Linked DNA regions of Homo sapiens. The protein of the gene in region 2 purifies or fractionates together with the protein of the main gene of each other region. This does not show direct contact. Each region holds a gene or a part of one and is shown on either strand. Other genes may lie near its edges.

What was found.
Region 1: the proteins of WDR11 (region 2) and EMX1 purify together in Homo sapiens (co-immunoprecipitation; one study listed by IntAct). This does not show direct contact.
Region 3: the proteins of WDR11 (region 2) and NAA40 fractionate together in Homo sapiens (co-fractionation; one large-scale study listed by BioGRID). This does not show direct contact.

The regions. Positions count from the first base shown.
Region 1 is NC_000002.12:72,916,171-72,920,331, reverse strand, and holds the start of EMX1 (homeobox protein EMX1), read right to left. Parts: upstream 2,814-4,161; 5' UTR 2,480-2,813; coding exon 1,960-2,479; intron 1-1,959. UniProt on the Homo sapiens protein: Transcription factor, which in cooperation with EMX2, acts to generate the boundary between the roof and archipallium in the developing brain. May function in combinations with OTX1/2 to specify cell fates in the developing central nervous system.
Region 2 is NC_000010.11:120,885,755-120,889,399, reverse strand, and holds part of WDR11 (WD repeat-containing protein 11), read right to left. Parts: intron 3,587-3,645; coding exon 3,462-3,586; intron 2,712-3,461; coding exon 2,564-2,711; intron 323-2,563; coding exon 216-322; intron 1-215. UniProt on the Homo sapiens protein: Involved in the Hedgehog (Hh) signaling pathway, is essential for normal ciliogenesis.
Region 3 is NC_000011.10:63,952,409-63,956,053, reverse strand, and holds part of NAA40 (N-alpha-acetyltransferase 40), read right to left. Parts: coding exon 3,489-3,645; intron 3,299-3,488; coding exon 3,215-3,298; intron 2,083-3,214; coding exon 2,005-2,082; intron 1,717-2,004; coding exon 1,575-1,716; 3' UTR 1-1,574. UniProt on the Homo sapiens protein: N-alpha-acetyltransferase that specifically mediates the acetylation of the N-terminal residues of histones H4 and H2A.

The DNA.
Region 1 (4,161 bases), on a different chromosome or scaffold from region 2:
ACTGTTTGTGCTACTCGATAACGTACCCGCTGGGACTGATGGCTCAGGAAGCGGCGGCAATTTCCAAGAGGGTTTTGCGAAGGATTTATCCGCCTCGCCTGACTGGAGACGCTCAGAGCCGGAGCTGGATTTCTCTCCAGGCGCCCCCGGCCCTCGGCGCCCGGAGGCAGGAACCGCGGTGCGGAGGGCGTCAGGGGCTGGATTCGAAGCCGAGGGTGCGGCCCAGGATGCCGACTCCGGACAAGCTGAACGGCTGGAGGCCACAGGACTTAGGAACGACCCCGCCCTCTCCTCCGAGCCCCTATCCCTCCACAAGCCTCCAACCCGCCAGCCCCTCGGCCGCGGCGGCCCGCGGGCTCACACACCGCCCCAACTACAACTCGGCCCCTGGGCGCCAGGTTTCGAGACCCAGGCTTCGGATCGAGCCCACGGAGGACCAGGGTAGATTGCTCAATTTTAAAGATATCCTCATGTTATCAGTAAACATTTATTTTTAAGTGGCAGAAACTCTTGCCCAAGGCAGATGACATTGTAGCATTTTTGTTTTTTCGGATTTGGATTTGGGCAAGTCTTTGAAATCTTCAAAGAGGAGGCAAGGCTACCCACAACAATTCTTATTCTAGTAATTACATTCTCTGGTTTTGTGGTATCTGCCAGGTCAGCATCTATTGGCCAGGTGGGACTGAAAAAATTGCCTGACAAATCGGGACCTGGGAAAGCGGTTTTCTGTGAAAGTCAAAGTGTCAAGAGATAATTTTCATTTTATTATCTAAACAACTGTGCCAAACATCTAATTGACTGTAGACCTAGACTACAGACCGTCACATTAGCTCCTGGAGCCGAAGCTCCAGCCATGTCCCTTTCATTTGTTTCTCTAAAAGCCGGGTTACCTAGCTCTGAGCCATAGACCCTTCTCACAAGGCTGTGGTCTGGTCTACACTAACAAAATAAAACTGGAAACTAAAGTGATGCCTGTACAAATCAAGGCCACTCTTTAAAATAAAATTTAAAAAAAAAGAAAAGAAAAAAACAAACTCCAACAAATTTCAAGGAAGAAAACGAACTCCAACAAATGCAACTCTCTTTTCTCCGGGAAAGACAAATAATTGAAACGTGTGTGTGTGTGTGTGTGTGTGTGTGTGTGTGTGTGTAGGGCCAGTGGAGGATCTTTATTAGCAAGCCGATTGCTGGATGCAAACTCCGGGGTTCGGACTGGCTACGACCTTAAAAGCCCTCTGCCCCCGCCCCCTGCCCGGGAAAACTGTCCTCGGTATTCCAGCAGCCGGGTGGGCTCCCTCCCGAAGGCGGCGAGCAACGGCGGAAGCCAGTTTGCTTACTGCAAACCTTCCCCACCTTGGGTAGGAGAGGCACGTGTGACTTGGAGAAGTCGGGCCAAGGTTGCCGAGAAACATCCCAAGACAGCCAGGCCCTCCACACTGAACATTAACTCTCCGATTCGCCCTCCCTGCTGCCCTTGCTTCCCCCAGAGCTGGGGCACGCGAATGGACTTTCCCCCGCCCGGACGCGCCAGCGAAGGCTGAGGTCTCGGAGGTGGTGGTGGACTTGCGAGAGAAGCGTGGTGCGAGGTTAAGCCGGGCGGAGGGAGAGCGGGAGGAGTTGTACTCTGGTCTGAGACTGGCTCAGCTGGGAGAGAGAATTGGGCAGGCTGTGGCGAGGGCCAGCACAGGCTCCGAGGACGCGCCTGGGCTTGCGTCCGAACTGGTATATTTTCTAGAAAAGCCTGGAGGTCTCCACCTGCTTTCCTGGGAGGGAGACCTACGCGGCGAAGGCGCGGGTGGATGCCGCACAGCTCTTCCCTGCCTGGGAATCTACCTCCGCGGACCTGCAGCCTTCCCGGCAGTAACTTCTAAACAGCCCCGCGCGCCCCCGAGCCTCCCCCGCATCGCCGCAGCACGGGCGCCGGCCGGCCGCCTCGGCGGGCACAGCGTGGACACTCACCCTGGAAGCGGTGGCCGAAGAAGCGGTTCCGCAGGACCCAGGGGTAGAAATGGAGAGGGTCCCGGTGCTGGGCGCCGAAGAAGGAGTGCGGGGGCTGCAGCGGGGAGGCGCCCAGCTGGTGCGCCGGATGCACGGTCAGCGCGGGGTGGTTCATGGCCTCGGGGAACACGAGCTCGGGCCCACCGTAGAGCGAGCGGCCCGCGCCCGCGGCGGCCGCGGCAGGGAAGCCACTCACGAAGGCCGCCTCGGCCGCGCTGGGGTGAGGGTAGTTGAGCGCCGTGGGCCGGAGCGGTTCCTCGGAGGCGGCCGCCGCCAGGAGATGGGAGCCCGCGCCCCCGCCGCCAGTGCCCCCGCCGGTGCCGCCGTCCTTGGCCACCAAGGACTCTATGGTAAAGCCGCGCTTGGCCGCGGGCTGGAACATGGTCGCAGCCGCGGGAGCTGTGCGAGGCAGCCGGGCTCTGGGGAGCGCTCCGCGTCCTGGCGCCGCCGCCTTGCGGGGTGTGCACCCAGCCAGGCACATGCACACCCGCCCGCACCCCTCACCTCCCCCGCCCGCCCGCTCGCGCTCGGCCCCCGCGGGCGAGCCAGGCGCGGAGCGGCGAGGGGTGTGTGAGCGAGCGACCGCGGGGTCCGGCCACAGCGTACGGCCAGGCGCGGCGGCTGCTGCGGCGGAGCGGGCAGCTCCAGGCGCCCGCACAGGCGCGGGCTCCGTGCTAGGCTGCGAGCTGCCAGTAAGGCCCGAGGGTTGAGCTCGTCTCCCTCCTTTCGGAGTCCCGCTGGGACCGACCCCAGCCCCCGGTGTCCCCGCACTGCCCTGCCCAGCCCCGGCCGCCCAGCGCTGCGAGGCGCGAGTTAGCGGGCACCTGCCCCGCGCTCGCCCATTGGCCGCCGCTCACCTGCCCCAAGGTGGGGGGCGGGGCGGGGCGGGGCGAGGGACGGCGGGTGGGGAGGGAGCCCGCAGTCGGAGGCAAAAGCCGGACTGGAGCCTTCGCGGGGAGATCCAGGCCTCCTCCTCCCCTCGCCACTGGCTTCTCCTCGCGACTCCGCCCTTTAGCTGAGTCTGGTGGCCGTGCCGCCGTCTCAACCCACGCGGGAGCCGAAGAAGGCGTCCGAAGGGCTTGGGGCTAAACTCCAACCCTCCCCTCCCCGGTGTGTAGCTCAGCCTAACTCTCCCATTCGTCCCGGGATGTCGTTTCAGTTCTCAGAGAACTTGGATCCGAGCGGAGGGTGGATGTTTGGGGTCCAACACATTGGTTTTCCCGAAAACCAGCTCTCTGCCCCCCTGCTCTCCGGGACTCTCCCACTCACCCACCATCGGCCTCCTGGGCCGCGGTCTGAAGCTGCGACCTTGTTCCTGAGGTTTCGCGTTTTCTGGATGTCACGGGGGACAGCTCTGGAAAGGGGACGCTCACTCCCTTCACAAGGGGCCAGGCGGGGCACTGCGCGGGAGAAGCCGCCGGAGCGGTCCCACTGCCACCCTCCAGCTGTTCGCGGGGCTGGAAGCAGCTCCAGTGCCCAGACACGGTGCCGCGACCGGCTTGGACCAGGACGGCGGGCCTCGGCACTGGGAGATCCACCCCCTCGCCTTCTCTGAGGCTCTGGGGGCTCAAGTGTCGGCGGGCCGGACCAGGTCAGGGCCTCGGAGACACTGTGGCTTAAATTGAAGCTGGCCAAGTAGCCCGAGCCCATCTCAAGAGAACACGCCAGCCGTCAGGACACGCAGAAGCAGCCTGACCTCCCTCGACCTTCACCTTCCACCCGCGACCGCGGAACCGCGGACGACTCTGCTCCGGCCAGTTTTTCCGTACGGCGGACGAATTCCCCGGGGGCAGTTCTCACGACAGGCTGTGAGAGCCGGGACTCCCCAAACTTTCCCACCCCACCTTCGAGGCCGCAGAAAGGCGCCGCTCCGAGGCCTAGGAGGGCGCGGGCGGCGGTGGGGAGGCTGGGACCTGGACCTTGCCGGCGCACTGCGGAGAGGGAGCCGCAGAGAGTTCCGCTTCCTCGCCGCTGCCGGGGTCCATTCTAGCGGCCTGAGCGCTGCCTGGGCGCGCAGATCTGGGTTGGGCCTCCTGACGCCCCAAGGCCACGGGGTCCGTGCGCCGCGCAACTCTGCGGGGACTCCAGGCCGGGTCTTGGCAGCGGCCCGCCTGAGCGCCGGGAGCCGTGGTTTGGAGAGCGCTCAGGGCGCCCCGGCCGCCA
Region 2 (3,645 bases):
CGGGCGTGGTGGTGGGTGCCTGTAGTCCCAGCTACTCGGGTGGCTGAGGCAGGAGAATGGCATGAACCCGGGAGTCAGAGCTTGCAGTGAGCCGAGATTGCACCACTGCACTCCAGCCTGGGCGACAGAGCAAGACACCATCTCAACAAAACAAAACAAAAAGATTTCATTTCTTTTTTTTAATGAAATAACAAGATTTCATTCTTGGCTTATACCTGGATACTCTGCCTTTCAAGTCCCAGAAATTTAAATTTCCATCCATATCTCCAAGCACTAATGTATCACCTTTCCAAGCGATGCAGGTAATACTACCCATACTTCCCTAGAAAACAACAGCAACAAACAAATATAAATTTCACTATGCTGTATAAGACATTATAATAAATATTTTAATAAAACTTAATTTAAAGGGCTGTGCTTTAGTATGCTTTTAGTCATCAAATCCTAAAACAGACTTTAGACACTAACAAAGAGCTACATTGCCTATCAATTTCAACTATGAAGAAATAGGAGATTTCAACTTCATAGACATTAAGTAGTTACTGGAACTAGATTTAAAGAGAGGGGATGTCTTTTGAGGAACAAATACCTCAAAAAAAAAAGGGGGAAATTAAAGTAAGAAAAACAGAGAAGTAAAGGGAAGGTTTTCCAGAGAGCCAACTCAAACTTATCTCTCACTGCAAAAGGATAACTAAATCCATTCCAAGGGAAACTTAAAGCTCTTTTATAACTAATTGTGCCGTGATTTTTCTATTGAAAAAAGGATCCAGAGCTTCACTGACACGTTTTGGAACATTGTGGAATCATGAAGGTGAAGAGATGCTGTTTACTAAAGGCATATGCAGTTTAAATTCACAGAAAGCTTTGCTCAGAAGTTACATATAGAAGCACAACATAAGAATGAAATGCTGCTGTAGTCAATCTAACTTGGAGGAAGAAAGGAACTTGCAGTTCTAATAGATGCTCAGAGGTGGTATCATGGAGGGCTCAGCAGCCTGGGCTCTGCAGTCACACTGCCTGGGCTTGAATCCCAGCTTGAAACTGGTATGTGATTTGAGGCATGTTTACTTAACCTTTCTGTCTTGGATTTATTGTCCATAAAGTAGGGTAAGTTCATGAAACTTGAGTTGTTGCTAGTATTAATAAATTTATAAAGGCAAAGGCCTTAAAGCAATGCCTGCCATGCAGTAAATAGTCAATACATGTTAGCTATTAAATAATATTACTGCTCAATTACTTCTCTATTTATTAAAAGAAATTTTATTTTTGCATTTATTGTACAACATAAAAATTCAAATGGTATCCATGGTAAAAAGTAAGAAAACTCTAGTGGTTTGAATAATTGACCATTAGTGGACTAGCACACACACTGAATACCGTAAAAACTCTGGTAATAGTCAAGAAACAAAACAAAAACTGGATTTAAAAATCAATATTATAATAAAGTCCATTAATAAAAAAAAATATTAAAGAAATGAAATTCTGTATATAATATGAAGCAACATTTTAAGATATCTACTTTCCTAGCCATAAAATAGAATGTTTAATTAAGAAGTTGCCTTTGAAGAGACTTCTGAAACCAGGTCATAATAGACTCTGCAACTTCCTTCTTGCTTTATCAGATCACTTACTCTAGGGGAGGCCAGTTGTCATGTCGTGAGGACACTCAAGCAGCCTTATGGAAAGATCGACATGAAGAACTAAGGTCCCTCGTCAACAGCCAGCATTAATGTGCAATAGCCTGTGAGGCAGCCAACTTGGAAATAGATCCTTCTGTCCCATTACACTTCAAAAGACTGTAGCCACAGCCAACATCTAGATTGTAACTTTATGAGACCCCAAAGCCACCTATAAAATTATGGGGGTTGGCATTCTACTAGAGCATTCCATTTTTAGATAGCAATTTAAAATAAATATACCTATTTTAAAAAATCCCCTCATGCCTTCATTTAACCATTATAATAGCCTGCATTAATTAACATAAACATTTTCATGATCCATCTATTAAAAACTATCTATGAGATGCATGCTGACACAAATGATTAATGGCAAAACTTTAGTTACAGATTCCACAAGGCCATAAGAATATATGTAAGTTAGTAAATGTTAATAATACTATTACACTTACAACCTGATTACTATTATCCAAAAATAATACTAGATTGTAAGTCAAATCCTTCAGGGTAATGCCTGAAATGGAAAGAAGACAGATACTGAAGTCAGACAGGCCTGAGTTTAAAACACTGCTCTGCCATATGAGTAAGCTGGATAACTTTGGGAAAGTTACTTATTCTCCCACAGTTTTGTTATGGGTAAAATGGAGATAACTCCTCATGGATTATTACAGGGATAAAAATGAGTAGCACACAGTAAACATTTAATCAAAATAGTTACAGCGTTATTCTCTAGCAGTATGGAACAAGTTTAATCGATAATATCTCCTTAAATAAAGTTTATTTACATTAGGCTTTTCTGAAGTTTCCAACTTAACTATGCCTTCACTGGATATGGAACCAACAAAACAAAATCTTCTTGATGAAGATTTAATCAAGGTTGTACTCACATCTGGTGGAATCCGAGCACTGTCTTTTACTGAGTTTCCTTCAACAGTGAGATGATACACTTGGCCATCAATATCGGTAAATACAAAATGTTCCCGGGCAGAGATGTTCTGACTAAGTTCAGATTTACTTTCTGCCTCCTGCAGCAAGCTTTGGGATAGTGAAACATATGATAAAGATGTTTTTTTTTCCCCTAGAGTGATACTCATAATTAATTAACTTGCCCAAAGTACAGACGCATTAAGAGGAGGTCCAAAACTATTTTTTTAAAAGTCTGAAACTAATATTTGCCCAGCTAATTATGGGTAAACATGAATCACTCCTTAACAGCCACAACATCAGAGGAAGTTTACCCTGCACAGAGAGAAATGGTGATCTAAACTTAACACAAGAAAAATAAAATTCATAGAGATTTTGGCTATAGAACTGTGCTCAACAGAAGGGAGGCTGTACAGTGACCCAACATTATCTCTGAAGCCTTTTATCTGTAAGATTGGTATGGATGGGGATGATACACAAATTTAGGATTCCCAACACATTTTCTTTGGTGTGTATAAATGATAATATGATCTATCTGTATGTCTATGCTATGTTCATTTGAATTTCAGAAGCTGAAGTGTATGGAGTAGAAGGGCACTCGGAATGAGCACATTTACTACTAGATGCTGATGGGTGAATATTACTGCATATGTTATTAGTTATAACAAACAGTATAGTACAATACTAAAAATGATAAAATTATCTTTTTAGTAATCTGGGTATGTACTGAAAGATGAAACTAAGTATGTTCAAAAGCAGAGTCCAACTTGCTACCATAGACACCTTCCGATGATACTTGTCAACTTCCCAGACATGATGCTAATGGCACAAATGACAGTGTCAAGAAACACTGTACTGTACCTGATCACAGATGATTCAACAATACTCAGCTCTGTGTCTGAGACTACGGTCTGGCGGGCCATGGCCTCTCGAGTTGCAAGTTGCTTCTTTCTCAGGCTCTTCAAGTTGTGAGATGGTGACCACTCCTGTAAAGCAAATGCAGACAAACCTAGAAGTGCTAGGTTTCCTTCTGTCAAAGAATCGT
Region 3 (3,645 bases), on a different chromosome or scaffold from region 2:
GCTCCTGCACAAGCAGGAATCCAGGTGAGAAGCAAGGACCACTCTGGGGAGATCTGCCAGGAGAGACTGCCAGAGTTGGGCAGAGGGTGGGATGTGAGCAGATGCTGAGGTCAGAGGGACCAACAGACCTCCACGAGAACAACTTCACGAAGGCTAGAACCTTTATGATACTCCCCACAGCAGAGCTCAGGGATATCCAAAGGGAGCTGTTAGGTGCTTTTTCCTTGATAAGGATTTGGCTTTTCTTCCCTGGAAGAGGAACAAGGCCTAGAGATCAGGATGAGCATTAGTTCTGAGCCTGCCTTTCTATCCTATGAGAGAAGAGGAAGGCTTTCTCCTTCCCCTGCTCCAGCCTGTTGCCACAGGGTGACACCAGAGAGAAAAGCAACTGTTGGCCACTGAGAGGCATTTCTGCTGCAGCCTGAGCTATGGCCCGGCTGGGCCACGGCAGTGGCACTAGTGCCTCACTGAGGCAGCGAGGGGCAAGCCTGAGGAGTGCAGGCAGAGGGGCCTGCTGCTGGCTGGGGGCTCTCTGAAGAGGGAGGGTGGCTGTGGGGAGGTGTGCCCTACCCTTAGAGAGCTATCAGCACCAAGATAGGAAAATCAATGGAGTTAACTACATGAGGAACGAGAAGTCCTTCTGGGGAAGATGAGGGGCTCCCTGATGTTATTCTCCCCTTGAGACTAAGAACAGAGGTATTTGGGGTAGAGGTGAGAGGCAGAGGAGAAAGAACGACGAGGGCTGGCAGACAAGAACAAGCAGAACCTCTGGCTTTCTTCTATGAATCAAAAGCTCAAGTCACTGCCATGAGACCAGGAGGTTAAGCTTAGAATGCAGCAACATCCAGGAGCCTAGAGAAGCAATCATCCCCATGGCGGGTCCCAAGAACACCTCATTGTTGGTCCTTTCAGGCTCTCTGACAGCGATGGAGAGGCAGTCTTCCTCCCAGAGTCAGCTGGTCCCAACATGAGCCCACTCCATGAATCCATAAAAACAGCTGGAAAGAGCTTTCTTCATTTCCCTGCATCTTGGCACAAAAGATCTTCCCAGTCTCCGTTAACAGCAATTCCAACTGCGCAAGCGTGAGTCTCTCTGAAGCCGCCCTCTACACCCAGATCTTACACCCAGTGTGTTCCTCTTTGGGGACCAGCAAACCCCAGACCCAGGACTCCAGAACTTTCATAAAGGTGGACATAAACATTCCATTTGTCCAAGTGTGTATGTGTCAGGGGAGGGGAGGTTGCCAGGAATCTAGGGGCTGCAGAGGTGCGAGAACCTCCACTGCAGGCCCCAGGAGCCAAATGAGGAGGCAGCCACTGTGGAGGATGAGCTTCACTGCCCGGCCCCACCTACTCTTCCCTCTCCCTTTCATTCCCTTCTAGCACTCTGGTCTCCTAGGAGAGGAGGAGCAGCTGATACCACTTCTCCCCAGGGTTCTGTGCTCTCAGGGCGCAGCCTGGCACGTGCAGGGCTGGGGAGGCCACAGCTCTGAGGACACCCGGTGAACAGTGAGACCAGGAAAGAGGAAAGGCCTTAGGAGAGAGCATTGTGACTTGAAAGTGGCTCTGAGAGTTCAGTGGCAGCAGCCACCACAGTGCCCACCCGCGTGGGAGTGATGGCTGTCCCCAAACTTGGTCCTCCGGCTCAGGATCTCATAGGAGCAATCCTCCCCACAGCAACCGGACATGCTGGGGGAAGAGTCATCAATTTCAAATCTGCAAGGCAGGCAGGAGAAAAGGGTTGGTGGCAGGCAGCTGAGTGCCTTCCTCCCTGGCCCGAGAACTCTTCTACCAGCCACACTGATGAGACCCTTAGGATGAGGGTGCAGGAGGTGGACAGTGGACCAAATCAGAGAGCACTGCCATACCATCTCCCTGAACCTGAACCCCCATGGACCACTGGACCATGAGCTCAGGCATCAGAATGAGTGAGGGCCAGGACCAGAAAAATGGCCCTGGGCAGGCCCACCTACCACCCAGAAGGGCCCACACCCAGCTCCTTACTGCAACGCTTCTCTGAAGAACTGGTAGGCACCATGATTGTGTTTAAATACTGTTAACATAACCTTCTTCATCTGTGTGCTGGAAGAAAGCAGAGCAAACGCCTTTTAGAAAGAGAAACATGGCCAGGCATGGTGGCATGCACCTGTAATCCCAGCACTTTGAGGGGCAAAGGTGGGAGGATCATTTGAGCCCAGGAGTTAGAGACCAGCCTGGAAAACATAGTGGGACCCCATTTCTACAAAACATTTAAAAATTTAAAAAAATCAGCCCAGTATAGTGGCATGTGCCTTTAGTCCCAGCTACTCCAGAGGCTGAGGCTAGAGGATCACTTGAGCCTGGGAGGTAGAGGCTGCAGTGAGATACGATCACACCACTGCACTCCAGCCTGGGTGACAGGGTGAGACCCTGTCTCAAAAAAGAAAAGACACAGAGACTAAGGTCATGCTTCCTTTCCTTTCTGCCTTTGTCTGTTACCTCCCTTTCACCCACACGAGTGTTCCTGAATTTGGCCTCTAGCCTCTGGAGGTCTTGGACCCCCACACAGCACTCACTGCTTCCCCCATCACAGGCTGATCAGACTGCACAGGCATCGGCCCTGACCAGACTGGCTTCTTCCAGAGCAAGGATGTTTCCCACTTCCTCTCTGTAGCACCATTACTTCGGTACAGAAGGTGGCAGAGATTAGAAACTCAAAAGATGCTCACTGGCCAGGTGTGGTGGCTCATGCCTGTAATCCCAGCACTTTGGGAGGCTGAGGTAGGTAGATCACCTGAGGTCAGGAGTTCGAGACCAGCCTTAACATGGAGAAACCCCGTCTCTACTAAAAATACAAAAATTAGCCAGGCATGGCAGTGCGCGCCTGTAATCCCAGCCACTTGGGAGGCTGAGCAGAAGAATTGCTTAAACCCGGTACGTGGAGGCTGCAGTGAGCCAAGATGGCACCATTGCACTCCAGCCCGGGCAACAAGAGTGAAACTCTGTCTCAAAAAAAAAAAAAAAAAAAAGATGTTCACTGCACTGAGCTAAACAAACAAAATCTGGAGTCATAATAAGGCAGGGAGCATCTTACTGAGAGGGTTCTAAGACACCTTTCTCCCAAAACATGCCTATGAGCCTCCTCCTCCAACAAGGCTCAAAGAATGGCAAGTGCCTCAGTGACAGCTCCTTCCAACTGAGTGCTATATGGGCCTCCTAAGAAGGGAGGCCTTACCTGTTGGCCATGAGCTGCAGGATCTGTATGAGGAACTTCCCCAGGCCTTTCCGCCGCACCTTGCTTTCCAACTGCACTTCATAGCTAGGTGAAGAAAGCAGAGAGGTGAGCGTGCAGGATGGGACATGAAGAGGCTGTAAGGTCTGGCAGAGGAGCTTGCAGTCCTTGGCAGCTCATAGACCTAGGTAGGTCCAGGGGCTTTGTCACCTGGCTGGAGTGCCTGGAACATCGCCAGGGTCTCTCTCCCCTACCTCCCCCAAGCCATGGCTCCTACCAGTACAGGACTTCATCCCCACACTCCACGTCAAACCGGAAGTGAGAAAAGGCAACAGGGACGGAGCTGTTTTCCCACGCGATGAGGTACCAGGCTCGGTCATCTGTCATTTCCTCCCGTTTCTCTCGGTCCTTCCAGCCCCACTCGCTCTGCTCAT